2 separate regions of the Homo sapiens genome follow, and region 2 is linked to region 1. A link means that fine-mapping ties the variant in region 1 to the expression of a gene that starts in the linked region. Tissue or cell type: hypothalamus. Region 1 holds a variant in brackets; the other region holds the start of a gene. All regions are shown on one strand. Distances are from middle to middle.

Evidence for each region. PIP is the estimated chance that this variant, and not a neighbour inherited with it, causes the effect.
Region 2: MSANTD3 starts here. The variant in region 1 is fine-mapped to the expression of MSANTD3 in hypothalamus (GTEx, PIP above 0.99).

The regions. Positions count from the first base shown.
Region 1 is chr9:100,471,579-100,479,842 of GRCh38, forward strand. The region is part of intron 1 of MSANTD3-TMEFF1 (MSANTD3-TMEFF1 readthrough); the gene reads left to right. TMEFF1 (transmembrane protein with EGF like and two follistatin like domains 1) reads left to right here and starts at 1,571. Exons shown (of 10, transcript NM_003692.5): 1 at 1,571-2,162. The coding sequence starts at 1,967. It overlaps LOC124902237 (a long non-coding RNA gene), which reads right to left and starts at 1,312. Exons shown (of 3, transcript XR_007061702.1): 1 at 1,225-1,312; 2 at 799-929. RefSeq lists silencers at 1,387-1,546, 1,827-1,886, 2,197-2,356. The variant G/A (reference allele first, on the strand shown) is at 4,709.
Region 2 is chr9:100,423,709-100,431,708 of GRCh38, forward strand. MSANTD3 (Myb/SANT DNA binding domain containing 3) reads left to right here and starts at 3,435. Exons shown (of 3, transcript NM_080655.3): 1 at 3,435-3,685. RefSeq lists silencers at 3,272-3,501, 3,542-3,771, 3,812-3,931.

The DNA of each region.
Region 1 (8,264 bases):
AATGGAATTGCTAAAGAGTAAACATATTTTAAAGGTTTTTTGATACATAGTCAAATTGCCCTCCTAAAATGTATAAATTAGTAGTGCTCAGTCTGCCAATTCTTTTAACTCTTGTTAATCATCCAAAGGGAAAATAATTGTGTGTGCGTGTGTGTGTGTGATGGAGTTTCGCTCTTGTTGCCCAAGCTGGAGTGAAATAGTGCAATCTCTGCTCACTGCAACCTCTACCTCCCGGGTTCAAGCGATTCTCCTGCCTCAGCCTCCTAAGTAGCTGGGATTATAGGCGTTACAGGTGCGCGCCACCATGCCTGGCTAATTTTTTCTATTTTTAGTAGAAACGGGGTTTCACCATGTTAGCCAGGTTGGTTTCGAACTCCTGCCCTCAGGTGATCCGCCCACCTCGGCCTCTAAAAGTGCTGGGATTACAGGTGTGAGCCACTGCCCCTGGCCAGAGTTTTGTGGTTTTAATCTTTTATTACTAGTGGGTTCAAATCTGTTTTCATGTATTTATTGTCTGTACTTTTTGTGAATAAGAGTCAAGCTTCCTATTTTTCTATTATGTTAACTTTTTCTTCTTGACATATAACTTTATATTAAGTATATTGTCTCATATTTGCACTGAAGACATTTTTCCTAATGTGGCTTTGCTTGCGGTGGCTTTTCACACATTTCTTAATTTTATGAATCAAATTGATCAGTTTTTCAATGAGACTTAAAATTCCTTCTGGGGTGGGATGCAATATAATAGAATGAAAAAGGCAGAGGACTTTCACACAATTCAGTCCATGATCTTAGTACCTATGTCTAGTTATCACCTAGCAGGATGTGGTAGGAAGAGCACTGGACTGGGAGTCAGATCACCTTGCCTCTCTGGGTCCCTACTTCCTCATCTGTAGAATGGAGATAAGAACGAAAACTCCCTCCGAGGCCTGTAAAAAAATAATTGAAGAGAATGCACATAAAGAGCTTTCACCAGGCCTTGTATATTAGAAAATCCTCTCTGAATCTCAGCTTTTGTTAGGGGGAGAGGGCAACACAGACTTTTGTAAAACTATTTTCACTCACTTGTATGTGAGTCTACGGGAATGAGGTGGGGATGAGGAACCTAGAAATCTAACCATTCACCCAACATCTCTGAGAACTGCATGGCTAGAGTCAGAACTTGGGCTCCCATCCTGGTCCTGCCCATTTCTTGGTATGCAACCTTGGACAAGTCACCTTTACCTCTTCCGTGACTCAGTTTCTTCCACCTAAAAACTATTATAGATATATGACAGACCACCTGCCCTCATTCCCAGCCCTGCTGCTGGGCGAAGGAAACGCTTCAAAAACAGCTCACAAAGGGCGGCAAACAAGTCTGCTACGGTGCAGCCTACCGCCGAGGGGTGGCCCCAACCCCGGCCCCCGCGCCCCTGCCCTGTCGCAGGAACAATAGCTCCCCTGGAGGCGGCGCCGGCCGCGGCCGGGGGCGGAGCTGTCGGCGCGGGAGCTGGGGGTGTGCGCGGGGCGGGGTCGCAGCCACCCCTCCCGCCGGCGGCTCCGTCACGCGCCCCTCACCGGGCGGGCCGGGGTCTTTGTGACGCGGTGGCAACGGCCACGGACACAAAGGGAAGGCGAGGAGGCGAGCAAGAGGCTGGGCCTGCCTCCGGCCCGCGACCCCCGCCCGCCGCGCGCGCGCCCGCCCGCTCCCCTCGCCGCGGTGTCCCCCACGCCGGCTCGCACCCTCGCGCGCACCCTTGCGCGCCCGCGACCCTCGCACGCGCCCGGACCCGCCGACTCCGTCCCGAGCGCCGCGGGCCCGGGCCTGGCGGACGCTGCGGGTGGGGCGGGGATGCTGACGGGCTGCTCCCCGGCTCAGCGGCGCGGCTGCTAGGAGGCACCGAGGCAGCGGCGGGGCTCTGGGCGCGCGGCTGGATGCCCCCGGCCTGCGGCTCCCTGCGCTTCCCGCCGTCCAGGGGCACCAGTCATGGGCGCCGCAGCCGCTGAGGCGCCGCTCCGGCTGCCTGCCGCGCCTCCGCTCGCCTTCTGCTGCTACACGTCGGTGCTTCTGCTCTTCGCCTTCTCTCTGCCCGGGAGCCGCGCGTCCAACCAGCCCCCGGGTGGTGGCGGCGGCAGCGGCGGGGACTGTCCCGGCGGCAAAGGCAAGAGCATCAACTGCTCAGGTAGGACCGGTCGGAGCCGGCCCTAGGTCTTCCCACCCCTCCGTTGCCGCCTCCCTCGTGGTCCCTGCGGTCGGCCGGGCTGGGAAAGACCCCGTCGTGGGGGTCCCAGGGGTGGGCCCGAGGGTGAGCGAGGGCGGAGGGCAGGGCGCGAGCGTGCGGTGTGGCTTTGGGACCGGCGCTGGGGATGGGAGTGGCCGTGGGTGCGTCCGAGTGTGTCGAGTGGCTGGGCGAGGGCGGCCCGGCGTGTGGGGAGGCGGTGGGGCCGGGGCCGGGGCCGGCGAGGCTGAGCGGCCGGCCGGGGCTCCCGGTGTGGTCGTGGGTGTGCTCGCGGGAGCGTGTGTTTGTGTTGTGAAGGCTGAGGGGAGGGAGGGCGGCCCCAGGCAGGGATCTGTGTGTGTGTGTGCAGAGTGCGGTGGGTGGGAGACGGCGAGGGGGCTGGGCGGGGTGAGGGCAGGGGAGTGACCATGTGCTGATGTGCTGGGGAGATTCTTCCTTAAGGCACTGGGGGTCTCGGGGGTGGGGGTCGTGTGGATAAAGGGAACGGGTTGTCTTGAGGACGCGGTTTGGCGATGCAGAGTGACTGTGTGTGTGCGCGCGCGCGCGCGTGTGTGTTCTTTGGGTTCTGAGATGGGATCTGGGGGCTTAGAGTGACCTCGGGTCTGTGGATATGAGCGGGGAAAGTCCCAGGGCCCAGGAAGTGACCCTGTGTTTTTGTGTGTTGTGTGTGAAGCCTGGGGCTCAGTTAGTCACCCTGGGGTATGCATTGAAGAGGAGGGATGGGTGCCCTATAGCGAACCCCATTTATGTCTTTTCAAAGGGGAGGAGGCTTGGGAGTCATCATCCTGTGTAGGGTTTGGATGTAGAAAGAGGAAATTAGGTCTCAGGGAATGCCCTTGTGTAGCAAGGTGTAACCCTGGGTTATTAAAGTGTGGAAAGAGAGAATTGGGTCCCAGGGAAGATGTCGTGCCTGTGTGTGTGTGTTTTGCGGGAGGGCCTGGATTCTGGCAGCAGCGGGGAGCAAGGGAGTGACCTCTCCCCTCTCTCCAAGGCCGCTTGCCCCCCCACAGCTGTTGGAAACAAAGAGCTTGCTGAGGCTTTAGTGGATAACACTGGGGAGGAGGGTCCCAGCAGTAAAGTTCCTCTTCATTTCTAAAGGGGTCCCAGAGGCGCACAAGGATTATGGCCCTGGGGCAAAGACAGGCATTCAGGTCTCATTTTTTGAGTGGAGGGTCTTCTTGGAGCTGGCCTAGCAGATGCTAGTGATCATAAGCCACATCCTTGCTAACTTGCCCTTTTATCAATTCTGGAGCCTTCTCTTGTCTTCTTTAAACCAAGGCGGAGTAGGGGGAGGAGGGAGGAACATAAGGCCACTGGGAATCTGCCGGACAACCTTTATACTTTTGGGCTCTTGAAGGGGCATTATTTCTGGAAGAGTGAGGAAGGAGCAAGAGAGTCTCAGCGCAGATGCTTATGCTACCCTAAATGAAGCAAGCCTTTGGCCCGCTATTTAGGTTTGAAGGCCTTAAATCTTTTAATAATTTTCATATGGTAATGTTTTATGAGGGGAATGGCAGTTTTGAGCACAGTAAACAATGGCATGTCCATTAAAAGCATTTCCATCCGTGAAAAAACTTTTCTGTTATTTTTCTGATGTTGAACGGGATATGGGGTAATGCTTTATTACATAATCATACTTTAAGAATAAAAACCAGTTGTATATTAGAGTGCCTTTTTATGTAACAAATATTAATTATCAAACTTGTAAGTGATCGCACCATGTCAATATTTTTCCAGCTAATGTGTCGCGGGTATTTGTTCTTGCTAAGCTAATTCGTTCTTAGCAAAATATAGTGTGTCTTGATGGGATGTTTTTGTGTGTACTTTCTAACTTGCATAGTTCAAGTTTTAAGAAAGGAAATAAAAGAAATAGAGGGATGGATACCCTTGAGGATGTGGGTTGGTGATGCAGAGCGACTGTGTGTGTGTGTGTGTGTGTGTGTGTGTGTGTGTGTGTGTTCTTTGGGTTCTAAGATGGAATGTAGGGGCTTGGAGTGACCTCGGGTATGGGCAGGAAAGTCCCAGGGCCGGAGAAGTGAACCTGTGTTTTTGTGTGGTGTGTGTGCGTGTGAAGCCTGGGGCTCAGTTAGTCACCCTGGGGTACTATGCATTGAAGAGGAGGGGTGGGTGACATGCAGTGTGGGAAAAAGGGGACTGATCTAGGGGTCATGGTCCTTGTTAAGCAGCTGTGTAATTTGGGGCAAGTTACTTAATTTCTCTTAGTTTCCATTCCTTTTAAAAAAGAGACTTGGATTTAGTAATATCTGAGTCTTCTTTCAAGCGTATTCATCACTGATATAAATGTCAATAAATTAAGCTGATCAAATAAAATGTTTTCTAGCAGTAAGATATACTTGAATAACTGGGTCTAAAGCTAGAGTTTTAACTAAGTGATACTTGTAGATTCTTATTGTAACTTTTTAGGATGAAGATTTGGGAACGATTCATATGGAAAAAAAATTTTTTTAGTTGGTAAGTTTGAGAACCAT[G/A]TTAATACAGTCTGGACACACACATCTGTTAATGCAGCTCGAAATTGTGCACAGTTTGTTTAGTAGCTTTTATTATCTAGGTATCCCCCCACAAACTGAAGTTTACTCTGTCATGTTTTTTTTTTTGAGATGGAGTCTCACTTTGTCACCCAGGCTAGAGTGCAGTGGCGCAATCCTGGCTGACTGCAACCTCTGGCTCCTGGGTTCAGGTGATTCTCCTGCCTCAGCCTCCGGAGTAGCTGGGACTACAGGCGCCCACCACCATGCCGGGCTAATTTGTATTTTTAGTAGGGATGGGGTTTCACAATGTTGGCCAGGCTGATCTTGAACTCCTGACCTCAGGTGATCCGCCTGCCTCGGCCTCCCAAAGTGTTGAGATTACAGGTGTGAGCCAATGTGCCTGGCCTATTTCGTTTTTTTTTTTTTTTGAGACGGAGTCTCACTCTGTCACCCAGGCTGGAGTGCAGTGGGGTGATCTCTGCTCACAGCAAGCTCCGCCTCCCGGGTTCGCGCCATTCTCCTGCCTCAGCCTCCCCAGTAGCTGGGACTACAGGCACCCGCCACCATGCCCGGCTAATTTTTTGTATTTTTAGTAGAGATGGGGTTTCATCGTGTTAGCCAGGATGGTCTCGATCTCCTGACCTCGTGATCTGCCAGCCTCGGCCTCCCAAAGTGCTGGGATTACAGGCGTGAGCCACCGCGCCCGGCCTATTTCAGTTTTAAAACTAAATACAGCCCTCGATTCCCTGTAGATATTCATTTTTGGTTTTGGACCATCATTTCAGCCTACTGTGAGCTTTCTGGAGCTGATTCGGTCAGGCTGTGCGTGTTGGGTCACTCACAGGTTTTTTTCACTTGCAAATATGAAGAGCAGTTCTATGGCTTCATTAAATTAATAGAAGTTGTCTAGATTGTGAAAAAGGATGGAACCCTGCGACATATTACTGGAGACTTTCTACCAACTTGGTTGATGTTGTTACGTTAGTCAACCAGATGTTCAACTAGCTATGCATCCTGTTAGTTGAATTTAACAGATTTTCGAGCTTCTGCTGTTCAACATTTTCCCATTTTGTTCACCAGCCTATTATTTAAAAGATTCTTTCAGATTGTCTTGTTAGATTGTTATGTGTATATATCATCCTGTCATCCTCCCTTTTTCCATTTTAGTAATCCTGTTAAATAAAAAGCACATGTTGTATAGCCTGCCTTAATAAAGAGCTGATGGTGGCTTTCTCATTTTACTGTATTCGAAAACTTATTTATCCATTTTAGAATTTTTCAGCAGTTACATAGCAGGTTTACCCACAGATGTTTTTCTGGATCTGCATTCCGCCTTTTTTTTTTTTTTTTTTTTTTTGAGATGGAGTCTTGCTCTGTCGCCCAGGCTGGAGTGCAGTGGCATGATCTCGGCTCACTGTAACCTCTGCCTTCCAGGTTCAACCAGTTCTCCTGCCTCAAGCCTCCCGAGTAGCTGGGACTACAGGCGCACACCACCACGCCCGGCTAATTGTTTGTATTTTAGTAGATATGGGGTTTCACTGTGTTGCCCATTCTGGTCTCGAACTCCTGAGCTCAGGCAATCCGCCTACCTCGGCCTTCCAAAGTGCTAGGATTACAGGCATGAGCCACTGCGCCCGGCCTGCATTTCTCCTTTTTTGAAATTTGAGCATGTGTTTATTTCTATTTATTTGATTTCTGGTCTTCTGGCACCTTGTCAAGGTAGCTTAGATAATTTGTGGTAGTTTTTAAGGCAGATGTAAAAGTTTTTTCAGCATCATGGAGTGTGAGTTATTTGGATCAGAAAGCATATTCTTTTGAACTAGCTCTGTATTCTGTTACTGTCCCCTACCCATGCCACTTACCTTAGAAGCTGGTTTCCTTTTATCAGATTTCTGACCTCCCTAGCTTGAAGATCATGCTTCTTGATGAAGATGAAGCATAGGGAATTGGCCCTGTTGTCTCTTGATATTGCATCTTCCCTAAGCAATGGGCCTTTGGTTTATCTCTTCTTGTTCTCAACAAGACTTTTTTGTTTGTTTGTTTGTTTGTTTGAGACAGGATCTCATTCCTGTCGCCCAGGCTGGCGTGTAGTGACGCAATCTCAGCTTACTGCAGCCTCAGCTTCTTGGGCTCAGGTGATTCTCAGCCTCCTCAGTAGTTCAGACTACAGGTGCGTGCCACCACACTCGGCTAATTTTTTGTGTTTTTAGTAGAGACAGGGCTTCGCCATGATGCCCAGGCTGGAACAAGACTTCTTTTGTTGTCCTCTTGCCCCAGTTCTCCACTTATTCTGGACTTTAGACTTATTGAGATTAAAAGAAAAACTTCGATTTTATATCTTTTTTATTTATGCTTATTTTTTTTTAAAGCTAACTTAACAGAAAGTTCCCAGTTATCCAAAGAGAAAAAAAGCTTGGAAATACATGACATATGTGAAGAAAGATAAACTTGAATTTAGGAGACCAGGTAACCTTAGACTGACTGACTTTGTTTTTCATTTGTGAAATGAAGATGATGATGGTCCTTTTTGGCTCTGGGATATTTGAGAAGAACAAATGAGACTAACCATGTGGGGCATTTCTAGCTTAGGGAATATGGTTAAAGAGGTAGAAGAACATACTGAGAGACCAGTAAGTGGCATTTCGTGATAGATATAAGGTAGAGAATTTGAAATGGGTTTTAACTAGAAGTGGGTCCTCTGGATTATTATATGGTGGTAGGAATGGTATTAATGGACGATATAAATGTCAGATTATGAGAAGTGCCTTATTTGTGGCAATTCAGGATTCTTGGGAATAAAAGTGAGTTTTTCTAATTAATGGGGAATCTCGGGCAGGGCTTTTATCTTCTAGATCCCTGTTGTGTAAAATGTGGATGGATAATAATTAATTTAGCAAACCTTGATTGAATACTGCGTAGTGTAATCTAATATACTGGATGTTAAGGGAAATATATGAGAAGGCTTCCCTGCTTTCAAGGGCCTTATAATCTTATAGAGGTGGTTAGCCTCTTACAGATATATATAGTGGAAGTTTCTGTTTACCACATCTGGGCTTGCTTCCCTACAGCAGTCCCCATCAATAAGCATTTATTGAGCACGAACAAGATAGGATTTTTTAAAAGGGGTACAGTTAAGTGGATTTATATATATTCACAAAATTGTACGACTGTCACCACTCTCTAATTCCAGAAAATTTTCATCACCCCCAAAAGAAACCTCATAGCTATTAACAGTCATTCCACATTCCTCGCCTCCCCAGTCCCTGGTTACTACTAATCTACTCTCTATGGATTTGCCTATTCTAGATATGCATGCAAATGGGATCATATGAGGTGTGTTCTTTTGTGTCTGGCTTCTTTCCCTTAGCATAATGTTTTCAATGTGCATCCATGTTGTAGTGTGTATCAGAACTTCATTCCTTTTTATGGCCAAATAATATTCCATTGTATGGATAAACCACATTTTGCATATCCATTTCTCTACTGATGGATATTTGAGTTGTTTTTACTTTTTGGCTGTTATGAATAATGCTGCTGTAACATTCATGGACAAGTT
Region 2 (8,000 bases), 48 kb before region 1:
GCACTCTGGCCTGGGTGACAGAGCAAGACCCTGTCTCTAAAAGGAATAAAAAAGGAAAAAAAAAAAAGATGTCGTTGAAATCAACTACTATATCAAGACTGCTTGGTGAGCCTGGATCCTAGCAAAAAAGATACAATATGTATAGCTATTCTCAGCAACCTGTGGAGCGCAATGCATCACTCATCTCCATCACAGGAATGGATCTCCTGAAGGGACCCTCCAGCATTTGAAAAAGGGACAAGTCACATGGATGAGTTCTTTATGGTTTTCTTTTCCTAGACTCTGTGTAGACGCTGCCCTTCTGTTAACACTTTCTACAAAGAAACTGTAATAGCTTTATTATTGATAAAATAGCTCACATTTATTGAGTGTTTTCTCTGTGTTTTCAAGAAACCTATTTAATTTGATGTAAGTGATCCAAAGTAAAAAAAAAAAAAAAAAAAAGAAAAAGAAGTCAGTTGTCCAAGGTAGCATGCAGAACTAAGTCAGGGATCAAGGAGAGAGCTGGGAAGGCAGCCACCATATTGCAGGCCTGAGTAGTTACCCTGCCCCATTAGTTTTTAAGATAGTCTGCTCTCTTTGTTTGAGGAGAGACACATGACTAAATTTGAGTTTCCCATGTCTCCTTAGCAGTACACCTACATGTGGCTCATGTCAATCACCATTATTTATTTATTTATTACAGCATTAATTTTTTTATTTTTAAAATTTTATCTGTTTATTTATTTTGAGACCAGGTTATGAGACTGGCTAATTTTTGTATTTTTGGTAGAGATGGGGTTTTGCCACGTTGCCCAGGCTGGTCTTGAACTCCTGGGCTCAAGCGATCCACATGCTCCAGCCTCCCAAAGTGCTGGGATTACAGGCATGAGCCACAATCTTCATTATTTAAATCAATAAAATAACACTGATCATTTGCTGAAGTTAAGACTAGAAGCTTTTATCTACCCAGCCAGGTAGGCATCATATTCCCATCTTAGAAATGAGAAAACTGGCCGGGCATGGTGGCTCATGCCTGTAATCCCAGCACTTTGGGAGGCAGAGGCGGGCGGATCACGAGGTCAGGAGATCGAGACCATACTGGCTAACATGGTGAAACCCCGTCTCTACTAAAAATACAAAAAAAATTAGCCAGGCGTGGTGGCAGGCGCCTGTAGTCCCAGCTACTCGGGAGGCTGAGGCAGGAGAATGGCGTGAACCCGGGAGGTGGAGCTTGCAGTGAGCCGAGATTGCGCCACCACTGCACTCCAGCCTGGGTGACAAAGCGAGACTCCGTCTCAAAAAAAAAAAAAAAAATGAAATGAGAAAACTGAGATTCAGGAGCTTAACTTAGTTCACGTTTATCTAGTGCTTTTTCCACACTGTATCACTTTATCAATCAAATTTCCAATCTGAATTGACCTTCCAATGTCACACCCCAATAGTTTTCCCTTGACCGTATCTGCATGTAAGAAGGGAATCTTCATGGACTTATAATATGGCACTAAGTGGAAAACAAGTGTAAATGATGTACAGCCTTGGCTTTCGGTGTGGTATCATAGCTTGTTTGCTAGCACATTGTAGCAACTCCCCTGGTATAATTTTAGTTTCCAGGCTCTCTGGACAATTTCAAGGCCTCCTGGACATCAGACAAATTATTGTTAAAATAATGAATGAGATGCCTGTAATCCCAGCACTTTGGGAGACTGAGGTGGGCAGATCACTTGAGGTCAGGAGTTCGAGACCAGCCTGGCCAACATGGCGAAATCCTGTCTCTACTAAAATTACAAAAATTATCCAGGAGTGGTGGCACATGCCTATAGTCCCAGCTACTTGGGAGGCTGAGGCAGGAGAATTGCTTGAACCCGGGAAGCGGAGGTTGCAGTGAGCCAAGATTGCACCATTGCACTCCAGCAGACTCTGTCTCAAAAAAAAAAAAAAAAAAAGAAAAGAAAAAGAATGAGGACCAGTATAGCTCTTAGTTTAGGGTCTTTATTTTTATTGGTGCTTCTGCCCTGGATTGTTTTTTGAGGGAAGAAAGAAAGGGTTGCGTGATTCTTTGTACATAGTGAAAACCTAGATCAGTTTTTACTTTAGGGCTATGGATAGTGGGAGTTGGGAGGGCAAGCAATAGTCTCAAAAATGTTCAAGGAATTAAAACACAAAAACGGAAAATTGCAAGTGTTGACAAGGTTGTGGAAACTTGGAACCCTCAAACATTGGTGATGGGAATGTAAAATGATTCATTCAGCTGCTGTGGAAAACTTTTTGGCAGTTCCTGGAAAAGTTAAACATAGAATTACCCTATGACCCAGAAAGTCCACTCCTAGGTATGTATCCAAAAGAACTGGGAACAGGTACTCAAATATGTGTACAGGCATGTTCAGAGCAGCACTATTCACAATAGCCAAAAGGTGGAAGTAACCCAAATATCTATCAAGGGATGAATGAATAAACAAATTATAATATACACATACAATGGGATATTAATCAGCCATAAAAAGGAATGAAGTACTGATCCACGCCTCAACATGGATGAATCTTAAATACAGGCTAAGTCAAAGAAACGACACAAAAGGCCGCATATTGTATGGTTGCATTTATATGAAATACCCAGAAAAAAGTAAACTCACAGAGATAGAAAATAGCTGAGTCGTTGCCAGGGTCTGGAGGAAGGAGGGACTGGGGAATTACTGCTTAATGGAGTATGGATGTTTCAGAACTAGATAGAAGTGGTTGCTCAACATTATGAATGTAATAAATGCCACCAAATCGTTCGCTTTTAAGTGGTTTATGTTATGCGAATTTCACCTCAAAAAAAAAAAAAGTTAAAAAGCCTTCTCTGCCTTTCTCTGGGGTTGGAGTCTTCCCAATGGATCCAGGGCAAAAGAAACATCCAGCCACTCTGTTTGCGGGAGGAGCAAAGGGTGGCTTGTCCCGACAGTTTGAGCTGTTGTGCATGCATTTACACACGCATTAATTCCAAATGAGTCAGCACAGTGTCCGAGACAGGTCCTGGGCTCCAGTGAGCACAGTCGCTCTCCTGGGGGAGGCACGTTCCACAAATTAACAGAAGTTCTGATAAACTCAGCATAGGGGGATTCGCTGTCCCAAGTATCAAGGAGTCCTAAAAGAAAAGGGCCTATTTCAGTCGGGGGACCTGGACTGAACTAACTCGTGTTCATGGCCGCCAAATCCCGTGTGACAAATGTATTCTTTTGTTGTTCATAGAAATAAAACAGTTTTTCGGGCCGCTTCAGGAGCTCCTCTGCAAAGGTGGGGAAAAAAGGCAACTAAATCAGCACGAGGACGTCAGCCCGAGGATGTCAGGAGCGGGGTCGGTGCGGACGGGCAGGTGGGCGGGGGGGCACCCCGCGCCCCGCCCCAGTCCCCTGGAGGCCGGCGGCCGCAGCTCGGGGAAGTGGGGACTGGCGCGGGGCCGCGCTCCCGCCCTCCTCGGCGGCGCCGACGGACCGGCAGGCGGCGGGCGGTCCGCGAGGGGGCGGCGGCGTCCGGGCTTTGTGGCCGCGGCGCGCGCGGCGGGGCCTGGCCGGCCGGGGGCGCGCCGCCGCCGCCGCCGCCGCCCGGCGTTCGGGAGCCCGCGGCCCTCCCGGCCGCCCTGCTTGCGAGAGGAGCCCAGGCCGCCCGCCCTCGCGCCTCGCCGGCCCCTCCCCCGGTCGCCGCGGCTGCCGCGCCGCCGCTGCAGGTAGGAGGCTCCCCTTCCGGGCGGGCCGCAGCCGGGCGGGGGCGGGGGTGGGGGGCGCGGGCCGGGCGTAGAGGGGGCCGGGGGCCGGCATGGAGGGTTTTCGGGCCGAGCCGCTGCGACCCCGGCCTTGCAGGCTGGGCGCCGGGCGGCCGCCTCTGCGCGCCGCGATGGGACTCGGTGAGTAGGGCCGGCCTGCTGCCTACAAAGCCCCGGGGCGCGGGCCTCTGGGGTACTCAGTGGCGCGCCCACGGCTGGGAGCGGGGTGGGCTTTGGACTCCCGGGCTCGGGGAGCTGCTCGGGGGGAATCCAGGTGACCTGCAGTACCGCGGTCTTCCCATCCCGGCGTCCCCACTGTGTGCTGATCACTGTGCTCGGCGCTTTTCCATACTTGTCTCCTTTAAGACCTCCAGTGCCCCGCCCGTCCAGAGTGTAACGGGAGGGATCCCTCACTTGCAGGATGAAGGCCGAGCATCACATCCTTGCTTGACTGACCTTGGGAAAGCTCCTTTACTCCGAGCCGGGGCTACTGTTTCTGTAAATTAGAGGCGGGGGTCGGGGGGGCGTGGTATAATATCTACCCTCAGGTACTATTGTGAAAGATAATGTATGTAAATGATAACAGCTAAATTTTGAGCACTCTGTATGTACCAGGCCCTAGGTACTAAACAGTTGGCATGAATTATCATTGAATCATCACCCTGGCGCTGTGAGGTAGTTACTGTAAATTGCATGAATAATCTTTATTTAGGAGTACGAAACAGTGAAGAATTTAGTCTCCCTATTCCGATTCAGGAGGTTGGGTATTTCTTAGGCGTGATAACATTTAACATTACAGACGTTCCTGCAGTATCGAGGAGAGTAGTTATAGGATGCAGGGATATATTTGTCATACATTTAAAACTGGAGGTAGGATAATATCAGGGCCAGAGAGTGTGCCTTTCAGCATGTCAGAGCAGATGATTGTATTCCAAGGAAATTGCTGAATATTAATTAAAAAACATAGTTTCTGAGTTAGGATTGAGGATGGCTGTGGGAGTCCAGGGCCAGAGAGAGACATGGGATGGACAAGGGGGAGAAGAAGGATTCTGAAGTCCTGGAGGAAGATGTAGAGGAAGGCACCAGGGTTCACCATCCCTCCCCTGCAGCATTGCTGGGCCAGATTTCATCCCTCCCGTAGAGACCCGGGCTAGGGGACAAAGGCTGCTGGGGCAGGGGGTGGGGAGGGATGTTATAGGTTGTCTCTTTTTACTCCCAGGCCGCCAAAAATATTCAGATTGATGGAGGGTCAGGTGATTGGGCCTCCTAAAATGCCATTATCCCTTCTCACAAAATTCTTGTGTTTCAGGGCATGGGGATGCTTGCCAGCCCTAATGGTTGATGAGATGCTTAAAATACAAAGGTCTCACTGATATAATGGAAGAGTGCATTTTCAACACCATTCACTGGGTTAGAGAAGTAATGGGCCTGAGGAGATTATTTTGGGTTTAGAATGGGGAGAACTAAAAAGGCTTTGGATCCTGAAGAAGGAAGAGAGGCAGGAAGGGCCCAGGCACTGCACCTGTGGGGAAAGGCAGGAGAAGAAGGAGCTGAGGACTTCACCCCACCATCTGCAGAATACCCAACAGGCTGTTCAGTTCTCAGCTACCAAGGGGGCACCCTTTCCTCTCCCAGTTGGTGATGATTTGTTAACGTATTGTGGAAGATCAAGGGCTGGACTCAGGCACTCCTGTCCTGAGTGAGTAGGAAAGACGTCTGGGAGAAGGGTGGTTTATTTTGTTTTTAACCAGGCATTGAAGCAGAGAGTAGGTGGGTACGTAGCGATGGTGAAGGTAGGGAACATCATGCATACTTGGAAGAGCAATTGCTTTGGAGAGATAGACAGTTTGGGGTTTGAATCCTAGCTCTGCCATTTCTTAGCTTTGTACATTTTTTGTGAGGATAAAATAATGTTTTTTCACATATCTGGCGTGCAGTTCAACAAGCACTAGTACCGTATTCCCTGTCCGTGATAACATTCATTCAACAAATGTCTGCTGAGCACCAGTCATGTGCTGAGTCATATGTTACATCCTGGGGATACAGCGATGAGTCAGAAATTATGTATTCCCCTAGGAATTTCCCAGTCCAGTGTGGGAGATGGACGCAAAGAGCAAATTGCAAAAAATATGGGAAGTGCTACAGTACAGTCATGTACAACTGTCAGTGAGCTCATAGAAGAGTAACTCATTCTGAGCCAGTGGGAACTCAGGGCCAATCTATATCTAACAAGGTGAGTATGAGACCTTATGACACAGGTTTTTGTTTTTTGTTTTTGTTTTTTTTTTGGGGGGGGACAGTCTCGCTCTGTTGCCCAGGCTGGAGTGCAGTGGCATGATCTCGGCTCACTGCAGTCTCCACCTCTTGGGTTCAAGCGATTCTCTTGTCTCAGCCTCCCAAGTAGCTGAGATTACAGGCACCTACCACCACGCCCAGCTAATTTTTGTAGTTTTAGTAGAGGTGGGGTTTCACCATGTTGGCCAGGCTGGTCTCAAACTCCTGACCTCAGGTGATCTGCCCACCTTGGCCTCCCAAGGTATTGGGATTATAGGCGTGAGCCACCGTGCCCAGCTATGACACAGGTTTTGAATGCTCCTTTACCACCTAACTTTGATCTCTTTTACCTTTGTCTTATCTTTGCCCTGCTAGTCTCTCCTCTCTCTCTCAAAAAAAAAAAAAAAAAAATCTAGTTGCAGTGTGTGTGTAATTTGTAAGCTGCTTCAAACCCATTTTAGAAGGAAGCCGTTATAAAGAAAATAAACATAACAGACTGGGTATTAATTGAGGAAGGCTTAACAAAAATTGCATGAGAGTTGGGCTTTGAAGATTGAAAATGGGCCGGGCGCGGTGGCTCACGCTTGTAATGCCAGCACTTTGGGAGTGAGACTCTGTGTCAAAAAAAAAAAAAAAAAAGAGAGATTGAAAATGGGCCCTTGGTGGCCTTGGGGTAAAGGATTCCAGCCAAAGGAAGCCGCGTGTTGAGTTTGGTCTGGTTAGGTTGAAAATACATGGAGAGAATGAGGGGCTGGTGGGGGTGCTATAATCAGGACCAGATCCGGAAAGGCCATGAATGCCATGTGAAGAGTTGGGACTTTTATCGTTTAGGCAGTGGGAGAGACGTCTGAGGTTTACAAGGAGGCCTGTGGCTTGATCACTGTGTTTTAGGAAGATCCCTGTAGTTGTGTGGAAGAGGGTATGGAAGTTTGGGAGACCATTTTAGAGATTAGCTCTGTCCACAGACATGGGCAGTGAGAATGGGAGAGGAGGGAACAGATGTTTGGGTAAAATGTACCATAGGTCTTGTTAATTAGTTGCATGTGATTGAAGATTACATTTCTGCTTTGGGAAGCCAAGTTGATGTGGCTGACATCATCAGAAATCAGGAGATTTTGGTGTATGGGGAATAATTAGTTTGGTTTTGGCTATGGAGAGTTGGAGTTTTCTGAGGTACCCATAGTGGGGCACAGAGGTGGCTGATAGATAATTGGAAATGTGTTTGATGCTAAGGAGAGAGGTTGAGGCTTGGAAGAGAGGTTCTTCCATCACTGCCACTTTATTCTTTTTCTTTTTTTCTTTTTTTTTTTGTTTTTGAGATGGAGTTTTGCTCTTGTTGCCCAGGCTGGAGTGCAACGGCGCAATCTCGGCTCACCGCAACTTCCACCTCCCGGGTTCAAGCAATTCTCCTGCCTCAGCCTCCTGAATAGCTGGGATTACAGGCATGCACCATGATACCTGGCTAATTTTGTATTTTTAGTAGAGACGGGGTTTTTCCATGTTGGTCAGGCTGGTCTCGAACTCCCGACCTCAGGTGCTCCTCCCACCTCGGCCTCCCAAAGTGCTGGGATTACAGGCGTGAGCCACCATGCCTAGCCTTTTTTTTTTTTTTTTTTTAAAGAGACAGCGTTTTACTCTTTCACCTAGGTTGGAGTGCAGTGGTGCAATCATTGTTCACTGCAACCTCAGATTCCTGGGCTCAGGTGGTCCTCCCACTTCAGCCTCCCAAGTAGCTGGGATTACAGATGCTCATGCCTGGCTAATTTTTTAATTTTTATTTTTAGAGATGGAGTATCACTGTGTTGCCCAGGCTGGTCTCAAACTTCTGGCATCAAGCAGTACTCCCCCACTGCCTTCCAAAGTGCTGGGATTACAGGTGTGAGCCACTGTGCCTGCGTCCCCACTCCCAACTTTTTTTTTAAAACAAACACTTACTGTGAATCTACTATGTGCTGAAGATAGATATAAAATGTAGTTCCATGCCTCGGAGCTCACCGTCAGATAG